Linked DNA regions of Homo sapiens. The protein of the gene in region 1 interacts with the protein of each later gene in a pairwise test. Each region holds a gene or a part of one and is shown on either strand. Other genes may lie near its edges.

Region 1 (7,423 bases):
CCAGGCCTCTGGCCTAAGAGTGATGGTGTGGGGGCTTGCCGGCCTCACGCCCACCCTCTCTCCACCCAAGAGCCACGCCCACAAAATGTTCAGAGCCAGGAGGACTAGCTCAAAGCTACTCTCAGTCTTGGACTGGAAGAGCCCCACCTCTTTCCACCGGAGGCCCTGAATATCAGAGTGGGGAAGGGCAGGGGGCAGGGATGGGAATGCAGGGAAGACAGTCCCCCAGAATCTAAACTTGGGGTCAACTTGGGGGTTCTAGGCTCCTTTCACCTCTTCGCTACTCTCAGCACAGGAATTTTGAGTACATATTTTCCATGTACATAAAGGGTTAGCTTGAGAAAAAGCAAGACCCCTCCTTCTCATGCAAGAAGGAAGTTGTAACCCGGAGGCCCAGGGTGCCCTCCGTCCAGCATTGTGGGGTGGGGGAGATGGGGGAGGGTGTCAGGCAGGGTGAGGGTCTGGAAGATACCCCCAGCCCCCAAGCTCAAGGACTGACTGCGGCACCCAACATTAGATTACAAAGGTTTATTTAGAAAATAGTTTGGTTGTTTTGGCTGTTGTTTTTGGCAAACATTTAAATACTTTCAGTAATCAAAGATTGTCGGTGCTTTCTCCTTGCCCCCTGGCAGCCACCCCCCGACTAGGTCCTGGAGAAGTCAGCCCTTGGTCAGACGGGGATGGGGAGTGGTAGTGTCTTTGGGGGGCTCCTTGCTTGCCCATTTAGGGGGCTACCTCTGCCACTGCTCTCTAAAACCCTGACCTCACAGCCACACCTCGGCAGGGCTCCCAGAGCTGGATCCAGGCAGGGAGCCCCAGAAGCAGCCCCTTGCTGAGGGGGGAAGGCAAAGGGGTCTCCCCCTCTCTCCTCCCCACTCCCTGGAGCCCGGCTATCTCTCTGCCAAGCTCCTGCCCTGCCGCACCCTCCCCTGCGCCCTGGAGGCCAATCCATCCCCGGGTCTCTGGGAAAGCTCCCCCGTCCGGGCCGCCCCTTCTGCCCAGCCCCGAGCGCGGAGCTGTCCAGGATTCCCAGACGGGTGCGAGTCACTGCCTGAAGCCCCTTCTCCTCCGTCGGAAGAGGATGTGCTTAAAGGATCGCCGGAAATCCTGGTTGAAGACCGTGTAGATGACCGGGTTGAGCGAGCTGTTGCAGTAGCCGATCCAGAAGAAGAACTTGAAGAGCGGGCCGGGCACCTGGCAGGCCTCGCGGCAGATGCCGTACAGGCTGTAGCTGAAGAAGAAGGGGAACCAGCAGAGCACGAACACGCCCATGACCACAGCCAGCACAAAGGTGAAGCGCTTCTCGCGCGCCTGGGCCACCTTGCGGCGGCACACGCTGCTGCGCGCCCGGCGCCGGCGCGACAGGAAGAACTCGACGGAGCGCGAGCTGGCGCGCGACAGGCGGCCACCGGGCCCCGGGGACCTGGAGGCGGTCAGCGCCCCCGACTCAGCCGCCCCCGGCCCCGCCCCCTGCCCGTCCGCACCGCCCGCGCCCCCCTCCGCGCCCGCTCGCCGCCGCCCGCCCCGCCGCAACGCGCCCCGGCGCCGCCGCCTCTCGGCCGCTGCGCTGCTCTCGTCCGGCTCCACGTCGGCGGGCGGGGGCGCGCAGTGCCCGTTCTCGCCTGCGCCTGCCGCCGCGCCCAGCCCGTTTTCGGTAGTCGGGGACGCACCGTCGGGGCCCACGGGGGCGCGCTTCTCGCTGAGCGTGCGCGTGCGCAGCTTGGCCACTCGGTAGATGCGCGCGTAGACCAGGCCCATGATGAGGCAGGGCGCGAAGAAGGAGCCGATGCAGGAGGACAGGATGTACCAGGTCTCGTCGTTGAGGCCGCACTGCGGGTAGGCGGCGCCGTCGGGCTGGCGGTAGAGCGAGACCAGCGGCGGGAAGGAGATGACGGCCGAGATGAGCCACACGGCCACGATGGTGGCCTTGACGCGGCGTGGTGTGCGCTTCAGGTTGTACTCGACGGCCTGCGTCACCGACCAGTAGCGGTCCAGGCTGATGGCACACAGATGCACGATCGACGAGGTGCAAAACAGCACATCGAGCGCCAGGTACACGCCGCACCACACCTGCCCGAAGTACCAGTAGGCCATGAGCTCGTTGGCCAACGAGAAGGGCATGACCAGCGTGGCCACCAGGATGTCGGCCGAGGCCAGCGACACCAGGAAGAGGTTCTGTGGCGCGCGCAGCGCCCGGCTGGTCAGCACGGCGATCACCACCAGCACGTTGCCCACCACGGTGAAGACGATGAGGAAGCCCACCACGGCAGCCAGCCCTGCCACCGCGCCCGCCGAGTACTGGCCGCGCGGCGGCCCCCAGGAAGCCCCCGAGGCATTGGCAACCCCGCCGCTGCCCCTCTCGCCCGCGCCGCTCGCATTGGGGCCCGCCGCTGCCGCCACCGCCAGCGCCGCCGCCAGCGCCGGGGACGCCATGGTCCTCCCGCGAGCTACGCCGTCCCTCCTGGAGCCGGGGCGCAGCCGCGGCAGCTCGGGCGCCCCCCAGCCGGGGTCGGCGCCCGCATCGCCGCCTGCTGCTCGGGCGCGCCCGCCGGGGACCGCGGCGCCCAGCAGCCGGCCCTCGGCCGTGGTGGCTCCGCGGGCGGCGCGCCGGAGAGCGTGGCTGCCGGGCTCCCCGCAGCTGCCGAGCGTGTAAGTGCAGAGCAGGAGGCGCCCGGAGCGAGCGGCGACGCGGCTGCGGGGGGAGGGGGGCAGGTCCCGGGGTCCTCGCGCGGCCCCGCCCTCGGCCCGGCTCACGGGGAGCGCCCCGGCGTCGAGCCCACGGCGACGCGGCGCCCGAGCGGGCGTGCCTGAGCGGCCCCGCGGTCCCGGAGCCCAGCCGGGGCGCAGGCGACAGGCGGCGGCGGCCCGGGCGCTCCGCCTCCCATCCGGCCGGCTAGGGCTCGGCGCGCCGGGGCGCCGGCCGCCGCTCCTCCGGGCCCCCGCGCCCGCGCGCTCCCTCCGTCTCCAACTTTACTTTCCCGGGCGGGGCGCCGGCGCCGCCGCGAGTCCTCCGGCTGCTCCCGGGCGCGGGCGCCCCCCGCGGTCCACGCTTGGCCGTGCGGCCGCCGCCTCGCTCGCCGGAGCTGCGCCGCCGCCGCCGCCGCCGCCCTGCGCTGGGCGCGAGTGCGGCCGCCTGCGATCGGCTTCCAACTTGGGTCGAGTTGCGCAGCGGGGCGGGCGCGCGGGGCGGGGCGGGCCGCGGGCCCTGGGGAGCTGGCCGGGAACCGGAGCCCGCGGCCGCCTGGTCGAACCTGCCCGCGCGGCGCCGGGGAGGAGTCCGGGGCGGCGGCGCGGGGCGCGCGCTCGGCGAGGGCGCCCCCTCCAGGGCCGCCTGCAGCCTGCGGGACGGGGCCGAGCGGCGGCCGGCCTGGGTGGTGAGTTCCAGAAGCTGCTCTTTCTAAGACTGGAGCCTCCTTCGCCTCCCCCGGCGCAGGCATGGGCGCAGGCGGGGGCGCGCACACGCGCGCGCGCAGCACGGGCGGCTCGGGGTCCATGGCCTGATGGCAGAGCAACCTCTCGCAGCCTGGGGGAGGACGCGACGCTACCTGCGTGCGCACAGGTCCTGCCGAGCTCAGGGTCCGGACCAGATCCTGGATCGGCGCTCCCCGTCAGAGCCACCTCCGCACCCACCCCGGCCTCAGTTCCCTCGGCCCACTTCCCAGCGCTGCTGGAGCATGAATCATAACTAACGGCGGTGTCTGTGGAAGCCCTGGGCAAGCTCCCAAGCTCTGCACCCATGTTAGCAGTGATTGAAGTTTAATCCTTAGGCTCTCAGGCCCTGCTTTTAAAGGATGGAGAGGTGTTCAAAGTCACCACCTCTGACAAACACCCAGAACGGAGCTGCCTGGATGATGGAGCTTTTTGCAAGGGTGGGCTCAGGGGAGAGCGGCCGTTGAGGTAGCCCCCGTGCACCCTCGCCCCCGTCCGCGCACCTCCATTCTGCAGATGTGCACTGCCACGTGCACTGCCACTCTGTGGCCCATGTTGGGTGCTGGCTTCTGCCTCCAGGCAGCCTGGGGTCTGTGGGAGAGGGACTTCCAGGGACGAGGTGATCCAGGAGGAGAGCTGGAGTTCTCAGGCCTGACGTTTCTCTGCTAGGACCGAAGGGACGACCCTTCTCCCAAACGTCCAGAAACGAACCCCAGCTGGCTGGCCTCTCCCTGCATGGGCCCGCAGGAGAGAGGGAGGGAAGGTCTGTCCATCCTGTGGCTAGAACCGGCGGGGAAGGGGCGCTTCTGAGTGCCCGGGAGGTCATCATGAAGAGCGGCTGGAGTGACTGCCCTACCCCCGGGATGCCTATCCATGCCCGTGGCCTGGGGCAGCTTCTCTCTGAGCTCCTGAAGGGCGCCAGCTTTAGCCTCAGAGCCTGTCGTGTTCTCTGCTGCTCAGCCCTACTGGGGAGCATGTCTGTCTCCGCAGAGACACTGCCAGGAGCTACGGCTTCGTTCTTCACCATGTTTGTCACCAGCAGGGCCTGCATTGGGGGTGTGGAGGCCGAGCCAGGGCCCGGCAGAAAGCAAATATTTCAGATGATGGGCCTGCCAAGCAGGGGCGCACGTTGGAGCCAAAGCCTTCTGTGCCAGTCCTGTGCTAGTCTAGGGCACATATGCCCTTCGGGGAGGCAACAGGCCATGGCTGTCCTGTGGGAGGTGTGTGACCTGGGGATGGTGGAGGGTCACCATCCTTACTAAAGGCCCTCCTGGTTCTGGTTGCCTAAAAGGTGCCACCTGTCCAGGGCACCTGGAGGTGCATTTTTCAGGGAAGCCCACACACACCTGCTTCCTTCATGGTCGGCCCGCTGGAGCCCTTGTCTCTATTGAGCCCTCTGCGATGGCAGAGAGTGAGGGGGGCCTGGCCTCAGTTGAGGTGCTCACCATCTGTGGGTGGATGGGGCCACCCACTGAGGTGAATGCGCTGACAACCATCAGTGCCCTGGGGCTCCTCCCCCAGCCTGGGAGCGGGGTTGTCAAGGAAGCCTTCCTGGAGGAGGTGACCAAACTGTGCTTAGAGAGTGAGGAGGTGTTATGAGGAAGGGGGAGGCCTCTGTAGGCTGTCCTTCTTCCAGTGGGAGTGGGCTTTGTACTGGGGGCGTGGGGAGACAGGAGGACTAGGAAAGAGCAGTGGCAGGGGCCAGATGCAGGCTTTGGAGAAGGTCTCTCTCCCTCGGCATCAGCGTGCCTCCCACCCCCATCCTGAAGGGCTCTCTTTTTGAGAAGTGCTTTGGGGGATGCGCAGGGGCATGGGGATCTATCTAGGATCCTGGCTCCTATGTTCCCAAGAGATGGCAGCCCAGGCACGGGAATTTGGAGGGAAAAGGACACGGAGCACCTGGGGCCCTGAGCCAGATGAGCCTCCCACTGCCCAGGAGGGCTGAAGGCAGGGGCCACTCACAGGCCAGGCTGAGGGCATCTGGAGTGCCTGGCCAGTGAGCGGCCCAGGCCCTTGGGGATGGCAGCCAACAGGCTGACATGCTGCTGGCAACACCTCCTGGCATGACCAGGGAGGGGTCAGAAGGGTCCACTCCAGGGCCTGGATGGAGCCAAGGGCAAAAAGCTGGGGCCTGGAGTCATTAGGAGGAGCGAAGCCCTGGGCCATGCATAGGGGTTGCATTGCACGCAGGCCTGCCTGTGGTGGGAGGGCCCGGGACCGCAGCTGTTTGCAAGGAAGCTGGAGAGGACTCTTCCCCCAGACCTTGAAATTAGGCTTGAGGAACTGCTCCGGATTGTCCGTAACAAGCAGAACAGCACGTACCCAGCAAGACTTCCTGTCCTGACGAGGCACGACGCGAGCTGGCACGACCAGGAGGGGCGAGGAAGGAGGGTGCTGGGGGAGTCAGGCTGCACTGGCGGGGGTTGTGGGGGCTGTCTGTGTGTACGTGTGCAGGGGAGTACATGGCAGAAGTGGGCATATTTCAGAGGGGAAACCTACAGGTGTTTCCTAGAACTGAGAACCTAGAAGTGGCACGTCCTGGAGCTGCAGAGGCGAACCTGCCTGTATCTCACCCATGATGCGTGGGGCCTAGGAGGACAGGGTTGGTCCAGCAGGGCCATACAGCCATGGGACATTGGGCCCTGGCTGCTGTGCCGGAGAGAGCTGGGTGCCTGCCTGGGATGCCGCGCTCTAGGCTTCGTGAGCAGCCTCAGCTCGGGTGGAGGGGAGTTTGGCTCCTTGAGCCCCCTCCCTGCACATGCAGGCATGCATGCACATACGCAGATGTACAGTGTCCACACACATATATGTATCCACACACATCCTTGTGCACACATAGATCCATGCACACACATGAATATACATATCATGAATACACGTGTGTTCATGCAAGCATGAACACCCATACATACACATATCCACACATGCATGCAAGCATGCAACCTATTCATGCACACTTGCATGCCTTCACACACACATGCATGCACACATCCACACACACACTGTCTACATATACCATGTGGATTTACAGTGCATCCATGCCTACAGAATATACACACATGTATGCACACATACATGTTCCCACACATGCACACATGCCTGCGTGTGCATACACATGCCCGTGTACTCTTCACATGCAGGTGCATATATACATATGCACTATCATACACACGTGCTTTTTGCACACGTATGTCTACACATGCATATGTATCACACTGGCATATGTAGAAATGATGCACCCATGCTGTGCACACACCTGTGCATACTGCGGGCACGCACAGCCTTCCCTGTGCAGATAACACGAATCCATGCACATTGCACACACGTGTGTATGCCTGTGCTGCACACATCTGTCCCTATGCATGACACCAGTCATGCATGTGCACACATGGCTTCGCATATATGGATGTGTACACACATATGCGGCACCTGTGGCCTTGCCCACCCTCCTAGGCTGAGGAGAAGATGTATTTCTGGGTTGCTGCTGCAGCCAGCTCTTCCGGGGCTGCGGCTGGGTTCTGCCTCGCCTGCCTGGTCTGCACAGCTCCACCTGGCTCCTGCGGTCAGCCCTCCTCTCCACGCTGTGAGCTGTGAGGACATTTCTCATTAACTCTTGTGGACCCTGGGCCTGACCATGTGCTGTCCGCAGGCCTGGATGCCCTCTGCCTCATCTTTCCTGGGGCTCGCTTCCTTCAAGACTTGTCCCATGATGTTCCTCCTTCAGGAAGCCTCCCGTGACCTCCCGGGCTGGATCTGGGCCACTTTTGCCGGCCTCCTGCATGCCCCATGGGGCATGGCCATCATCAGTAACCATACATCTCAGCTGTGTCCCATCCCCACTGCCTGGTCCAGGGCTGGGCTCTCAGCTCACAGAAAGAGCTGAATGAAGGCCTGGTGGCAGGATGGGTGCCGTGAAGGGCAGATGGGCTTGTGGGCCTGGCTCTAGCCTCCTTAGCCGCACTGATGCTTGCTGGGTGCTGAGTGCAGGGGGTGC
Region 2 (7,133 bases), on another chromosome or scaffold:
GTGAAGACCCAGAGTCGATGATCAGCCACACTGGGCTTCTCTCCCCTAGTCACTTCCCTATCCAAGCCCTGTGTCCTCTGCATTCTCCCTTCTAGTCAAGAACCCTATTGAGGCAAGTGTCTTGCTGGCTGAAGCCTCGCTGGCACGGAAGCAGCGGAAAACACATACTACCTTTATTCCACTGATGCTGAATGAGATGCCACAGATTGGGGACCTGGTGGGTCTGGATGCTGAGTTTGTCACCCTTAATGAGGTAACCAAGACCAAAGGGATGGGGCATTGGAAGAGAACGCTGAGGATATTAGGAGTTGTAAGCATTTCTCTGATTTCCTTATTAACTCTTCTCATGTAGGAGGAAGCAGAGTTACGCAGTGATGGTACCAAGTCTACCATTAAACCAAGCCAGATGTCAGTAGCCAGGATTACCTGTGTTCGGGGCCAGGGACCCAATGAGGGTATCCCCTTCATTGATGACTACATCTCTACCCAGGAGCAGGTATTAGGATATGGAGATGCAAGTGAGGCACACCCTGGTGCTTACTTACAGTGCTCAAGAACCCAGGGAAGAGTGATAGGGGAAGACTCCATCTCACTTCCTGAAAAAGGCTTGTCCTTTTCTCTATTCCTAGGTGGTGGATTACTTGACTCAATACTCGGGTATAAAGCCTGGTGACCTCGATGCCAAAATTTCCTCCAAGCACCTAACAACTCTCAAGTCTACCTACTTAAAGCTTCGTTTTCTCATTGACATTGGAGTCAAGTTTGTGGGTCATGGCCTGCAGAAGGACTTCCGGGTCATCAACCTGATGGTTTGGCAGGGCTCTTTTAAGAGTCTTCTTGTGAGAGTGGGCCCCTCAGGGTATACATTGTGCCTTTAGAGAATGGGGAATTATAGGTCCCCTACCTTAAGTCTCCCCCTCTTTTATCCTTGCCAGGTGCCCAAGGACCAAGTCCTTGACACTGTCTACCTGTTCCATATGCCCCGAAAACGAATGATTTCCCTGCGATTCCTTGCTTGGTACTTTCTGGGTGAGTTGCTCTGCCTTGTAGGCCCCTGCTACATTAATAGCAGAAGCAGCCATTTAAAAAAAAAGAAATCATGTTCTTTGCGGCAACATGGATGGAGCTGTGGGCCATCATACTAAGTGAACTAACTCAGAAACAGAAAATCAAATACCACATATTCTCACTTATAAGTTGGAACTAAACAATGAGTACATATGGACATAAGAATGACATTAGGGACTCTAAAAGTTGGGGTGGTGGGTGAGGGGTGAGGGTTGAAAATTACGTATTGGGTGCATAGTTCACTATTTGCATATTAGGGATACCAGAAGCCCAGTCCCCACCAGTACACGATACACCCATGTAACAAACATGCACATGTACCCCAAATCTAAAATAAAATTTAAATATAAAAAATAAAAGCATGGGGGGAAAAGAAAAAGTAGGAAAAGTGTTAGAGGACAAAATGGGAGTAGGGGAGACCCTCAGTTAGTGGTGACAGTTACTAATGGATTTAATTAACTTCAATATCCCTTCTGTGCACTGAGGAAGATGTCTGACAATTTTCCTTAAGGGCAGTCAGGCTTTTTAGTTTTCTGGAGTCAGGTAGGAGTGGGGAGACATGTTCCTACCTCCCTTTGCTGGGTCCCAAACTATTCCACCTTTACTTACCCCAGACCTGAAGATTCAAGGGGAAACCCATGACAGTATTGAGGATGCCCGCACAGCCCTTCAGCTGTACCGAAAGTATCTGGAGCTAAGCAAAAATGGCACTGAGCCTGAGTCTTTCCACAAGGTGCTCAAGGGTCTTTATGAGAAGGGCAGAAAGATGGACTGGAAGGTGCCTGAGCCTGAGGGCCAAACAAGTCCCAAGAGTAAGACCTGGGATGGGACAAGGGAAACTGGACTGGGTGGATTTTGTATTTTGTTTGTTTGTGACAGGGTCTCACTCTGTCACCCAGGCTGAAGTGCAGTAGCGTGATTACAGCTCACTGCAGCCTCGACTTCCTGGGCTCAAGTGATTCTCCCACCTCAGCCTCCCAAGTACCTGGGACAACAGGCACACACCACCACACCCAGCTAATTTTTGTACTTTTTGTAGAAACAGGATTTTGCCATGTTGCCCAGGCTGGTCTTAAACTCCTGGGCTCAAGCGATCCACCCACCTTGGGCTCACAAAGTGCTGGGATTACAGGCATGAGCCTGAGCGCCCCCAATTGGGTGGATTTTGATTGCACATATGGAGAATAGCACTTAACAGTTTACAAAGCACTTCATCCTCCTAACATTCAGTAAAATACATTTTATCGAAACTCTCCATTAACTATAACTTCCTCTTGCCCAAGTCTAAAATGTTCAGGGAAGGTCCATGCCCTTTTTTCTCTTGCATTTTTCCTTCATAGGAAGTATGAGAAGATGCTTTTTCTCCACTCAGCTTGAATCATGCTTTTGGTTTTGTCTCTGACAGATGCAGCTGTCTTCTCCTCAGTGCTGGCGCTCTGACTACCCTTCCCAAAGAACCACGGCCCTCTCCCTTTACTGTTCTATAGCCCCAGAACTGGGAGATGGCTTCCTAAGTTGGCTATACCTTGTCCACTTCCAGTACTGGACGTGCTCAGGGTCTAGGGTCACAGATGGTGCTATTAATTGAACTGGAACACAGCAGAATTGTTGCAAAGGTTCTAGGAGCCAGATTCATTCCTTCTTCATTCTTTGCAAAACAGTGGTACAGACATGGAGTCTAGAATTGACCCAGATGGAAAGTAATTGGTATTCTTAATATCCTGGGTGACTAATATCCAGGCAGAGAAGCTCCTGGAACCATAACTGTAAGTTCCTAGCTGGCTAGGGATTGAAGTCCTGGACAGTGACAGAGGATACCACAGTAGTTCAAGACTTAGCACAAGTCACCAACTGCTTCAGGGATACCTGGAGGGGCCAGCAAGTAGAGTGTTGGTGGCCCAAGCAAACCAGTGTTGCCAATACCATTGCCAAAAGGGCCTTTGGATCCTGGACAAAGCTTGGCTGCCGGCTTCATTTATTCCTGCTGATGGCTGAGAAGCATCTGTCTTCCATCCCACTTGCCTGTCCCAAGTTTTGTTCCATTTTTTAAAAATTTGTTGTAAACTGCATGTTTTATAAAATAAAAATAAAATATCGTTTGTTATTTATCTCATTAGAGAACTGCTAGTGTGGGTTCTCTGGCTTCAGTCTTCCTCTCCTTCCTTTGAAGGTAAAGGTCCGGAATCCAAAGTTATGGATATGAAAGGGTATAATTAGGCCGGGCGCGGTGGCTCACTTCTGTAATCCTAGCACTTTGGGAGGCAGAGGTGGGTGGAACACGAGGTCAGGAGTTAAAGACCAGCCTGACCAAGATGGTGAAACCCCGTCTCTACTAAAAATACAAAAATTAGCTGGGAGTGGTGGATGGCGACTGTAACCCTAGCTGAGGCAGAAAATTGCTTCAACCCGGGAGGCGGAGGTTGCAGTGAGCCGAGATCACGCCACTGTATGCCAGCCTGGGCGATAGGGCGAGACTCCGTCTCAAAAAAAGGGGAAAAAGGTATAATTTATGCCTTTTCTGGGCAATGCTGGGTCTTTGCTATAGCTGCCCAGTACCCTAAGTCAGACTGAAGATGTACAGTATGGTTTCCGTTAATTGTGTAAGCCGACAAACTACAGGTCCCAGGATAGCTTGAGACTTGTAGTTGCTCACAAAGATGGGTCCGGTGCTGCGGTGCTTCCTGGGAGATGTAGTTTCCTGTGTATTGAAACCTGGACTGCTCGCTGGCCGGCAGCGCACCGTTTTGAAGGTCCTAGCCCACCTGGGCTGGCTCACGCGCACGACTAGCCGCTCCCATACAGCACGCCCGGACTCTGTCGTCGCTTAAGGCCACTCCTATTCTACGGCTGACCCCTGGTGGTCACGTGGATCTGTTCGCCACGCAAGTCTGGGTCCTTCGGCGATTGACCGGGGTCCTTGCTGTTCGGGAGCCTCTCCTAAGCTGCCTGTTCGCGCGAGAGTTTGGAGGGGCGGGTTTGGGGTCGGTGTCTGATTGGGGCTCGCACCGCAGCACGCTGGAGTCCCGCTTAGGTACCAGTTAGCGTCAGGGGAGCTGGGTCAGGCGGTCGCCGGGACACCCCGTGTGTGGCAGGCGGCGAAGCGCTCTGGAGAATCCCGGACAGCCCTGCTCCCTGCAGCCAGGTGTAGTTTCGGGAGCCACTGGGGCCAAAGTGAGAGTCCAGCGGTCTTCCAGCGCTTGGGCCACGGCGGCGGCCCTGGGAGCAGAGGTGGGACGGATGCGGGCGGCGAGGCGCTGGGCGCTGAGGGTTGGGGATGGACTGAAGCGAAAGCAATGGCGGAGTCCTTAGAAAGGGGGCTGGTGTCCGTACGGGTAATCACTTACGGGCTGGAGGTGGGGACGCAGGAATCTTCGGTGCAGGATCCAAATGGGCCCTAGTTATTGCTCTCCTCGCTGGCCTCCTGGCCTGACTGAGGGCTCCCTGCCGGCAGTTCCCTAGTGCCTGTAGTCCTCACGTAATCGCCAACTTACCTCCTGTAGCTGCCACAAAGCCCCGTGAACCCTAGGCATGCAGTGCTAAAGTACCAACACTTAGGGCCTCACCTATCCACGTAGAGTCTGGGGCTGAGCCGCAAGTCCTGAGCTCGCGCTCCCACCCACCACCCTGGGGGAATCAGAGCCCTCAAGCGCTGGAACAGAGAAGCCCCTTTGTGTCCCGGCCATTTCCTGGAAAGTAGAGCCAGAGTCACAATGAGGCCTTTGAAAGCCTTGGGGTGAGGATTGGGGGGGTCAGGGAAAAATGGAGTCGGCTCCTCACACTTATGTTTTATTCCCACTCAAACCCAGGTGGAGCGACCCCATTACGCTAAAGATGAAAGGCTGGGGTTGGCTGGCCCTGCTTCTGGGGGCCCTGCTGGGAACCGCCTGGGCTCGGAGGAGCCAGGATCTCCACTGTGGAGGTAAAGGCACAACGGGAAAAAGAAGTGGAGGAAGCAGAGCCTTGGGAGGGCATGAGATCCAAGGCCTGGGAGAAGGATGAATGGAAATCCTGGGTTGATCCCATTCTCCTCACACCCTACCCCCTACCCTGTCCCCTGCTCTCATTCTCTCCTCTTCCACCAGCATGCAGGGCTCTGGTGGATGAACTAGAATGGGAAATTGCCCAGGTGGACCCCAAGAAGACCATTCAGATGGGATCTTTCCGGATCAATCCAGATGGCAGCCAGTCAGTGGTGGAGGTAACTGTTACTGTTCCCCCAAACAAAGTAGCTCACTCTGGCTTTGGATGAAATTCGACTGCTTAAAAAGGACCTTGGTTTAATAGAAATGAAGAAAACAGACTCAGAAAAAAGATTTGGCTCTGTCTCATTTGGAAGAAGCTGCAGGCTTATTCCCCATGCACTTGCTTCCTGGCTGCAAACCTTAATACTTTGTTTCTGCTGTAGAATTTGTTAGCAAACAGGGAGTCCTGATCAGCACCCTTCTCCACATCCACATGACTGGTTTTTAATGTAGCACTGTGGTATACATGCAAACATCCGTTCAAAATCTGAGTCGGAGCTAAAAATAAAAAATGAAAAAACAGAAATAAGAATAAAAGGTCTTATCCTCATAATTAGGAAATTTTAATCGAAAACAACACACATGTACACAAAGGTGTATCTAATAAGCAATATATAAGGCAGTGTTAAGATTACAGTGCTAGCCTGGGCATCATGGCAAAACACCAACTCTACAAAAAAATGCAAAAGTTAGCAGTGCATGGTGGCATGTGCCTGTAGTGACAGCTGCTTGGAAGGCTGAGGTGGGAGGATCACTTGAGCCCAGGAGGTCGAGGCTGCAGTAAGCCGTGATTGTGCCACTGCACTCCAGCCTGGGAAACACAGCAAGACCCTGTCTCAAAAAAAAACCAAAACCCAGCACTTTGGGAGGCCAAGGCAGGCGGATCACCTGAGGTTAGAAGTTCGAGACCAGCCTGGCCAACATGGTGAAACTCCGTCTCTACTAAAAATACAAAAAAGTAGCCAGGCGTGGTGGCTCATGCCTATAGTCCCAGCTACTCAGGAGGCTGAGGCAGGAGAATCACTTGAACCCAGGAGGCAGAGGTTGCAGTGAGCCAAGATCGCACCACTGCACTCCAGTCTGGTTGACAAGAACAAAACTCTGTCTTGAAAAAAAAAAAAGGCCGGGCGCGGTGGCTCACGCCCGTAATGCCAGCACTTTGGGAGGCTGAGGTGGGCAGATCACAAGGTCAGGAGATCGAAACCATCCTGGCTAACATGGTGAAACCCCGTCTCTACTAAAAATACAAAAAATTAGCCGGGCGTGGTGGTGGGTGCCTGTAGTCCCAGCTACTCAGGAGGCTGAGACGAAAAGAATGGCGTGAACTCGGGAGGCAGAGCTTGCAGTGAGCTGAGATGGTGCCACTGCACTCTAGCCTGGGCGACACAGCGAGACTCCTCTCAAAAAAAAAAAAAGAAAAGAAAAAAGATTATGGTACTTTAATAGCTGTTGTTCACAGAGCCTACACTACATCTTTAATACTGTGCTTACTGAGGATATTAGTCTCAATTTAAACAAAATTATTATTATTTTTTTGAGATGGAGTTTAGGGCTTGTTGCCCAGGCTGGAGTGCAATGACACGATCTCGGCTCACCGCAACCTCTGCCTCCCGGGTTCAAGCGATTCTCCTGCCTCAGCCTCCCGAGTAGCTGGGATTACAGGCATGCACCACCACACCTGGATAATTTTGTATTTTTAGTAGAGACAGGGTTTCTCCATGTTGGTCAGGATGGTCTCGAACTCCTGACCTCAAGTGAGCCACCCTCCTCGGCCTCTCAAAGTGCTGGGATTACAGGCGTGAGCCACCACGCCCGGCCAAAAATAAAATATTAATGAACACATGGACACAGGGAGGGGAACGTCACACATCAGGTCCTGTTGGGGTGTTGGGGGCTAGGGGAGGGATAGCATTAGGAGAAATACCTAATGTAGATGACAGGTTGATGGGTGTAGCAAACCACCATGGCACATGTATACCTATGCAACAAACCTGCACGTTCTGCACATGTATCTCAGAACTTAAACTATAATTTAAAAAAAAA
Region 3 (7,040 bases), on another chromosome or scaffold:
TTGGGTTTTTTTATTTTTTACTTTTTTTTCTTCTGTTTCCTACTGAGGGTCTGGGAGTCACTAACAGCAGCTTGAGCTGGGATCAGGGCTGCTTCTGTCGGCCAGGAAGTCCTAATCACCCACTTCTTAATTCTCTGTAAATAAAGGGGGCAGACCTCGAAGTGCAGCGAGGTGGAAGGGACTCTTGCTTGCTTGGAGCCGCTCTTAGGGGGAGTAAGGAAGATGGCTGGAAATTATTTTATATTCTGAGAGCACTTGGCGAGGGGTGAGATGCACGATCCTAACGTGTACCACACGAGCTCTTCCGGCTGAGGGTAGGTGGGCAAAGCGACGGGATGCCGAGGGGAGGGGACAGTGGGTAAACAGCAACTGAGCCCCAAGCCAGAGGCCGCAAGCATCCCGAAGTGTGGCTAAGCCGCCCGGAGGAACACAAAGGGCATACGCGCACGCACACTTAAAGTTTTAAAACACGATTTATTTATTTTTGTCTGCTGCAACGCTGGGAGAAATGTGGTCTTTGGAAGGAAGCTCTCCAGTGTGTAACCTTCCTATTATTTTGGCCCCCACACTGTGGCTTTAGTAGAACAGGAGCAAACAAGTTTATAAGGCAAGGAGGTGGAGAGATTAAAAGAGCATTCTCTTGCATTTATGAAGTGTCACTCCGGTGTGTATGTAGGTGAAGCCTTTGGCCTCGTCTGAAATGCCCATTAAAATGCAGAGTTAAAACTATTTTTTTTTCAATTTCACACAGTGTTCCCTTCTTGGGAGGTCAGGGCTGGGTCTCAGGGGTTGGTTCCGCGGCCTCCGTAGTGTGGGGAGTGGATCAGAATCGACTCGGGCTCCAGACTGCCTGAGCGTCTCGGATGTTTCATTACGTTCCAACTGAGGCTGTTTTTATTTGTCGGGCTGCAGTGGCCGGGGTCTTCTCTGGCCAGATCTGAGGGACCTCTGAGCTGCGGGAGAGGGCCAGGCCCTTTTCCCTTTCTGTTTCTGGCTTAGGCTCGCCTGATGGAGGAAGGGTTGTAAAGTGTGGTGCGTGCCTGTTGTATTAAAGAAGGACTCCACACCCTCCAAACTTGTTGATTACAGTTCTTGCTCCTTCCCCTCTGCACCCCGTCTCTGTGTGTGTGTCTCTGCGTGGCGCTGCCCGTTAGGCACCCGTTGTTTCCTCTGTTAGCTCTGGTCTTTGAGAAGTGCGAGCTGGCGACCTGCACTCCCCGGGAACCTGGAGTGGCTGGCGGAGACGTCTGCTCCTCCGACTCCTTCAACGAGGACATCGCGGTCTTCGCCAAGCAGGTCCAGCCTTCTTGATCCACTCAACTTCGGGCAGTCCCTCACTACCCCTCCCCTTTCCTCGGAGCTTTACTTGAAAGGAGGAAAGGCCAGGGACACCCTATCTGTTCCTCTGGCCCAGTCCGCTCTCTACGCCTCCTCCCCATCCCTGAGCCTGGGGGCGAATTGGAAGTGGAGATAAATATGGGTGTTTGTTTTCCCCCCCAGCAGGAATACAGGGGTCGACCCTCGAATTAAAGTTGACCTGCTCCTAATCTGGGGCTTGGCCTTTTTCCCCCGCCTCCAGCTACTTGAACAAGAATTGGGGAGAGGGGCTGTGAGGGACCCGGGAGTGCCCGGGAGGCAAGGAAGCTGGGCGCCTCTCCGAGCGGTCCCAGGCAGCAGTGGAGAGCCACAGCCTCTTGGACTGCTGGATATGGAACTCGAGGCCCTGAGAACGACCCTGAGTTCCTGGCTACAGCTTAGTCGTACCAGGTCCCCCTTAATGGGGCCAGGACCAGAATGCCCTGATTCTTCTTCAGGGACTCCACTAATTTAAGGCACCAGTTTCTTTCTTGTATTTTGCCAAAGCCCCTTTCCTCTTCTCCGCCATTGCCCTCCACCGTACCCATTCTCACATTTCAGCTTTCTTATTTTAAATGGGGTGATCGTTCAAGTTGACTCTCTGTTTCTTACAGGTTCGCGCCGAAAAGCCACTTTTTTCCTCAAATCCAGAGCTGGACAATTTGGTAAGGCTCTCTGTTCCTTGTTTTTCCCCAGCCTTTGCCCTCTCCCATGCCCAGAAGCACCCACTTTCTGCTGGAGCTCTGGGGAGTTAGAACAGAACCCTCTTTTGGAGCTCTAGGGAGAGAGGGAGGAAGGGAGCAGCTTAGAGCCCCCGCACGGGAGCTGGCGAGCGAGGAGCAGGATGAACGCGGTGGGGAGCGAAGCCCAGGGAGGCCGAAACGGGAGACCGAGCGCCGAGAGCGCGAGCAGGGGATGTTTCCCAGGTCTCGGCCCCAGGAGTAAACTGCGAGAAGTGAGTTATTTCCTCTGTTTGCCGGGGCAGGCGGCCGAGCCCCGGGCGGCTAACCCGAAGGATGTAACCACTGGCACGGCTGAGGGCGGGCTGGGGGTGGGGGCTGGGGGGCGGTGAGGGGCAGGCCAGCGCAGGCCACTTTTAGGTGCGATTCTTTTGCTAATTTGCACGATTTCAATATTAAAAGTACTTAAATCCGCTTTCAAAGGCCCTGCCTCAGCATTCATCTTGAGTATTTCCTTCTTTAGTGAGGAAGGATTTCGCTGGGTATGCTGTTCTAAAAAGCTTTTTCTATCCTGAGAAGGGACCTTTTTTTTTTTTTTTTTTTTTTAAGGAAAAAAAAAAAAGTTGTCCTGAGGTCGAGGGAGGGGATGTTTAAAGAGGACTAAGAGGAGAAAAAAGGCCTGGCCCGAGGAAAGCAGTCTTACAAATAGCACAGTGAACATCAGGGGGAAAGATATTAATGCTTATGCTCAGGTTGAGTCAGATTCCTACCCCGTGGCCAATGAGGCAGAGATGATCAGTAATCACTTGATTTTTCTGACTATTTCTTGATGTTTAAGTTTTTCCTGGCCACCTGCCCGTTTCTTCTCCCCAGCCCAACTTTCTCACCACCATCCTCACCCCACTCCCAACCCCAAGACAGGACCTCAGAGTCACAGAGCTCTAACTCCATTCCCTGAACTTTTCTTTCAGATGATACAAGCAATACAAGTACTAAGGTTTCATCTTTTGGAGTTAGAAAAGGTAAGCAGGAAATAACGCTCCCCGTGTTGATTAAACCATTTCCCTCTCCTAGTTGAGTTGGGATGTTTTTAACAAACCTCTAGTGTGAGGGATTGAGCACCTGGAGATTTTGAGCATGTAACCATGTCCATCCTTCAACTCGCTTCTCAACACAGGGGCTCAGAGGGTGGGTGAATCAGGACAGCCTTGCCTTTAAAGTAGCCTCCTCCTCCCCAATATTCCCCTCAGGCATTCAGGATTATTTTGAAATGCAGCAAACCATTTATGTTACTGGACACTCAGCCTGCTTGCATCTTTATTAGCTCAGCTCACCCTCGGCCCTGGGTTTGCATTAGGTGCAGGCAGAGTGAATCATCCTTGCTGGGTGTCTTTACATTGCTCTGCAGCTCAATTACTTTCCCCTGGAAACATACGAAACCCCTAGCTTATAAAATCACAAACGTTAATGCTCTCCCCAGCTCCAATGTTGTAATGTTTTGATGTTATTATCAAATCAGATTTAATTCCCTGGACTCCCACTCTGAACCCAGTTATTTCCAGTCCTGTTTCTTTCTCTCTCTATTGTAACTTGTTGCTCAGAGAAGTCTCTGGAGAATAATATCTGCTGCAACAATTACTCTATTGTTTCCTTGCCTTCAACTATTACACCCTTTAATTAGAGTTAGTTTGGAAGACATCACACTGTTGCTCTTTGCAAATGTAACCTTGCAACCTGGTATTTTTCCTTTCTAAAAATGAAACAAAACAACAACAACAACAACATGAGCTAAACCCTCCACCATGACCTTCGTTCTAGGTCCACGAACTGTGCGATAACTTCTGCCACCGATACATTAGCTGTTTGAAGGGGAAAATGCCCATCGACCTCGTCATTGATGAAAGAGACGGCAGCTCCAAGTCAGATCATGAAGAACTTTCAGGCTCCTCCACAAATCTCGCTGACCATGTAAGTCTGCTAGCCTTTAGCAATCTTTTAAGGCCACTGGGCAAAGCATTATTTTAACCTTGTTTTAACATCTAGCTCCACTGATTTAGTTTTCTTTTTAAATGACTCCGTCTCTTTTGGGGTCTTTTCTTCTCTTTCTTGCTTTCTCTGCCATACCCTTCATTTTCATTTCTCCTTTCTTGGACCCCCTCCTATTTATGTTGAGAGCCAAAAAACCAGAGTTGATAGAGTGATTTGTGCTCTTAATGTGTAAAGTTTTCTGGATTTGGTGACTTGGGTGTTCGCAAATTCTGTTTGATATAGTCACCACTGTGTTTTCTGCTTTCTTAATTTTGTGTAATCAGTGCAGCAGGGATAGAAAGAAGCAAGACAGTTAGCTGGACTGGTCTGGAGAGAGAGGACTGAATGAAAGAGAATTGAGTGAGTGCTGATTTCCTAGTATGTCACAGAGATGACAATTCTGAGAATTATTGGCAATCTTGCACTGCATTCGAAATAAAAGGGGTGAACAAACACATTACAATTCTCAGGGCTTTTGCTATAGAAACTTATTGTCAGAATAGGGACTTATTGCCAAATGCCTGAAGCATCTTCATAATAAAAGACAGTAACCTTGATGAACCAATTATTAACAATGTATTACAGAAAGCTGAAGGGAATTATGATTGAGTAACCATAGGTTAGTGGTTGAATTTTAACACTTTAACAGTTGGTGAATGAGGATGGAGAGTATAGTAAGAAATGACTGTGTATGTCAGGCCAGGAAAGGAGATTTCTTTCTATTCTCTCTGTTTCTAATCCTATTTTGGAACCAATCTAGTGAGTCTGATGCTAAAAAAAAAAAAAAAAAAAAAAAAAAAAAAAAAAAAAAAAAAAAAAAAAAAGCATATGTAGTGAGACTGAAAATTTGAAAAAGAAGCAAAGAGAAGAAAGATTGCAGCTGGTAGGAAAGGCAAGAGTGGCGAGGTTAAAGAGTGGGTGTGAACAGCAGTTTTATTTATAGGAACTCAAGCCTGGAAATGGGGGACAGGGTGTCTATAGATTACATTCAGTTGAACTCACAGCCTAAATAATATAAGCTGTAGTTTAATAACTTTGTGGCCGAAATATTAATTTGACACTCCGTGTGAGTTAAACAGGCATTAAGGCTTGAAGGCAGTTTGTCCCTACCTCCCATCCCAATTCCTGACTGGTATGAGAAATGAATTGGGATGCCTTAGTATAAACCTTCTATGAGGTTCTTCTCTCCCCTGCTCCAGACAAAAGTTTTGAAAATATGCAGTCATAGATTTTCATAATTAACCTTTGCACTTGTATGGGAAGCCAGCCTAAGAACAAAAGTTAGAAAAAGTCTAGAAAAGAAAACCGCAGTCTGGGATATCCAGTTCTGTGACAGAATAAATACTGCGGTGTTGAAGGCTCCTATTCTTATCTCTTTACCCTTACCTTTTTCCATCATGGTGAGGGAATCTTTGGTGATCTCCTTTGTATATTGAGTGAATGTAATGAAATCAAAAGGATGCAGCAGTGGTTATGGAAAGTTTATTTGCTGATCTGTGGCTCCACAGTGTGTTGTGGTCCATGAGGCATGACACTACCTAAGAAATATTTACATTTGTTGTTTTTTGTGTGTTTATTTTCATTGTTTTCTGTTTCTATATTTATATTTATTCACATTATTGGGAGACTGGGGAGGGATCTATTTACATGGTTTGTAAAATGAGAGGTTCACAGTTCTCGGAGCCAAAAGCTTTTCTCATGATATTTCTAGGAGTACCTACTACTTAGTTTTCTAAAACAGTTTCTTGGCAACTCTTTTTCCAGTGGATGTATACAGCTAGACCATGTTGATGTTTACATAGAAAAGATAAGATAAAATAGGCTGTTTAAAGTATTGGCTGATAGACAATATCAATTTATGAGACTATTGTAATATTTAAATATCCACTCAAGAAGGAAGTTGTACCTAAGAGGATAGTGCTTTAATAATTTATCAATCATCATCTTTGGATAAAAGAGTCAACTGTAACATTTGTTGCTCTCCTTTCAGGCCCCCAGTCAAGTAAATATGACAACTGATTTATTTTGAACCCATGAGGGCTTGCCACTTCATTGGGTGTCATAATTTAAAGCCTTTTATTTCCTAGAGATCTGAACTATAACATTTTTACTTTAGCCCCCTGCTATTTGTTTTGAAAGGAAGCAATAATTTGTTCCACCAGCACACCAAGTAGAAAACGGAGAGATTTGCCACAGACTTGTATTTTATGCAGGGACATGAGAGAAAACCTTGGAGAGTTTTCACCATTTTTGAGACTTTTGTACCATAGGTGTATTGATTGTATTCATGTCCAGGCTTCCCCCTTCAAAGCAAATCCTCTTATGCTTTTCAGCCTCTTCTACAAAGTTGCCTTCCTTCAACCCCCTAGCCAAACACAAAGTAAAAATAACAAAGAACCACTACCTGAAAAGTGGTGTGAGTGGGACATTTTCAGCATGTAAATGTGCCCAATTTGAATCTTCAGGTTTATTTTTCATTTGCTTTGATATGCATATTTAATACATTGCCCCAGGCTGGATCTCATTTGGTGAACACTGGTGCAGGGGTGATGATGAGCCACTTCAGAAAGGCCCAGACAGCGCGTTGTTTTCTTGTTTTATCTGTTGGCCCACTATTCTGATCTGAGCTTCCTCTTGGTTTTATTTGCACATGAAATGCTGAGAGCATTTCAACTTATTGGCTATGAATAATGACAGCTAAAAAAGAAGTGTAGTTTAATTTGTTGTATGCCAAGGTTTCTCTTGTGGAGGTGACAGTTTGTGACAGCTGTTTGACACCCCCAAAACACATACACCTCTACTCTTATTAAGTGGTATCCAGCTTCATTGTGTGTGTGTGTGCATACTCGTGTGTGTGCATGTTTAAGGAAGGAACATGCAAGGAGAGAGAGAAAAGCAGAGAGAAATGCATCAGAAGCAAAATATTAGGTACCAATATAGTTTCAGTATTCTTTAAAAGAATTTGAAAATGTAAAT

Evidence for each region. Proteins that work in one complex are often made in the same cells at the same time.
Region 2: the proteins of ADRA2C (region 1) and CNPY2 interact in binary tests that used the Homo sapiens proteins (3 or more experiments, as listed by UniProt).
Region 3: the proteins of ADRA2C (region 1) and MEIS2 interact in binary tests that used the Homo sapiens proteins (3 or more experiments, as listed by UniProt).

What each region holds. Positions count from the first base shown.
Region 1 is NC_000004.12:3,761,617-3,769,039, reverse strand, and holds ADRA2C (alpha-2C adrenergic receptor), read right to left. Parts: upstream 2,656-7,423; 5' UTR 2,434-2,655; coding exon 1,045-2,433; 3' UTR 514-1,044; downstream 1-513.
Region 2 is NC_000012.12:56,312,984-56,320,116, reverse strand, and holds the start of CNPY2 (protein canopy homolog 2 isoform 1 precursor), read left to right. Parts: upstream 1-4,128; 5' UTR 4,129-4,296; intron 4,297-4,874; 5' UTR 4,875-4,899; coding exon 4,900-4,987; intron 4,988-5,150; coding exon 5,151-5,266; coding exon of another isoform or gene 5,267-5,317; exon of another isoform or gene 5,318-5,622; intron 5,623-7,133. Other genes in the region: PAN2-PAN3 deadenylation complex catalytic subunit PAN2, read left to right, coding at 96-253, 353-496, 630-809, 936-1,029, 1,683-1,880, 2,474-2,508. UniProt on the Homo sapiens protein: Positive regulator of neurite outgrowth by stabilizing myosin regulatory light chain (MRLC). It prevents MIR-mediated MRLC ubiquitination and its subsequent proteasomal degradation.
Region 3 is NC_000015.10:37,090,545-37,097,584, reverse strand, and holds part of MEIS2 (homeobox protein Meis2), read left to right. Parts: intron 1-1,154; coding exon 1,155-1,296; intron 1,297-1,970; coding exon 1,971-2,021; intron 2,022-3,007; coding exon 3,008-3,058; intron 3,059-3,854; coding exon 3,855-4,004; intron 4,005-7,040. UniProt on the Homo sapiens protein: Involved in transcriptional regulation. Binds to HOX or PBX proteins to form dimers, or to a DNA-bound dimer of PBX and HOX proteins and thought to have a role in stabilization of the homeoprotein-DNA complex.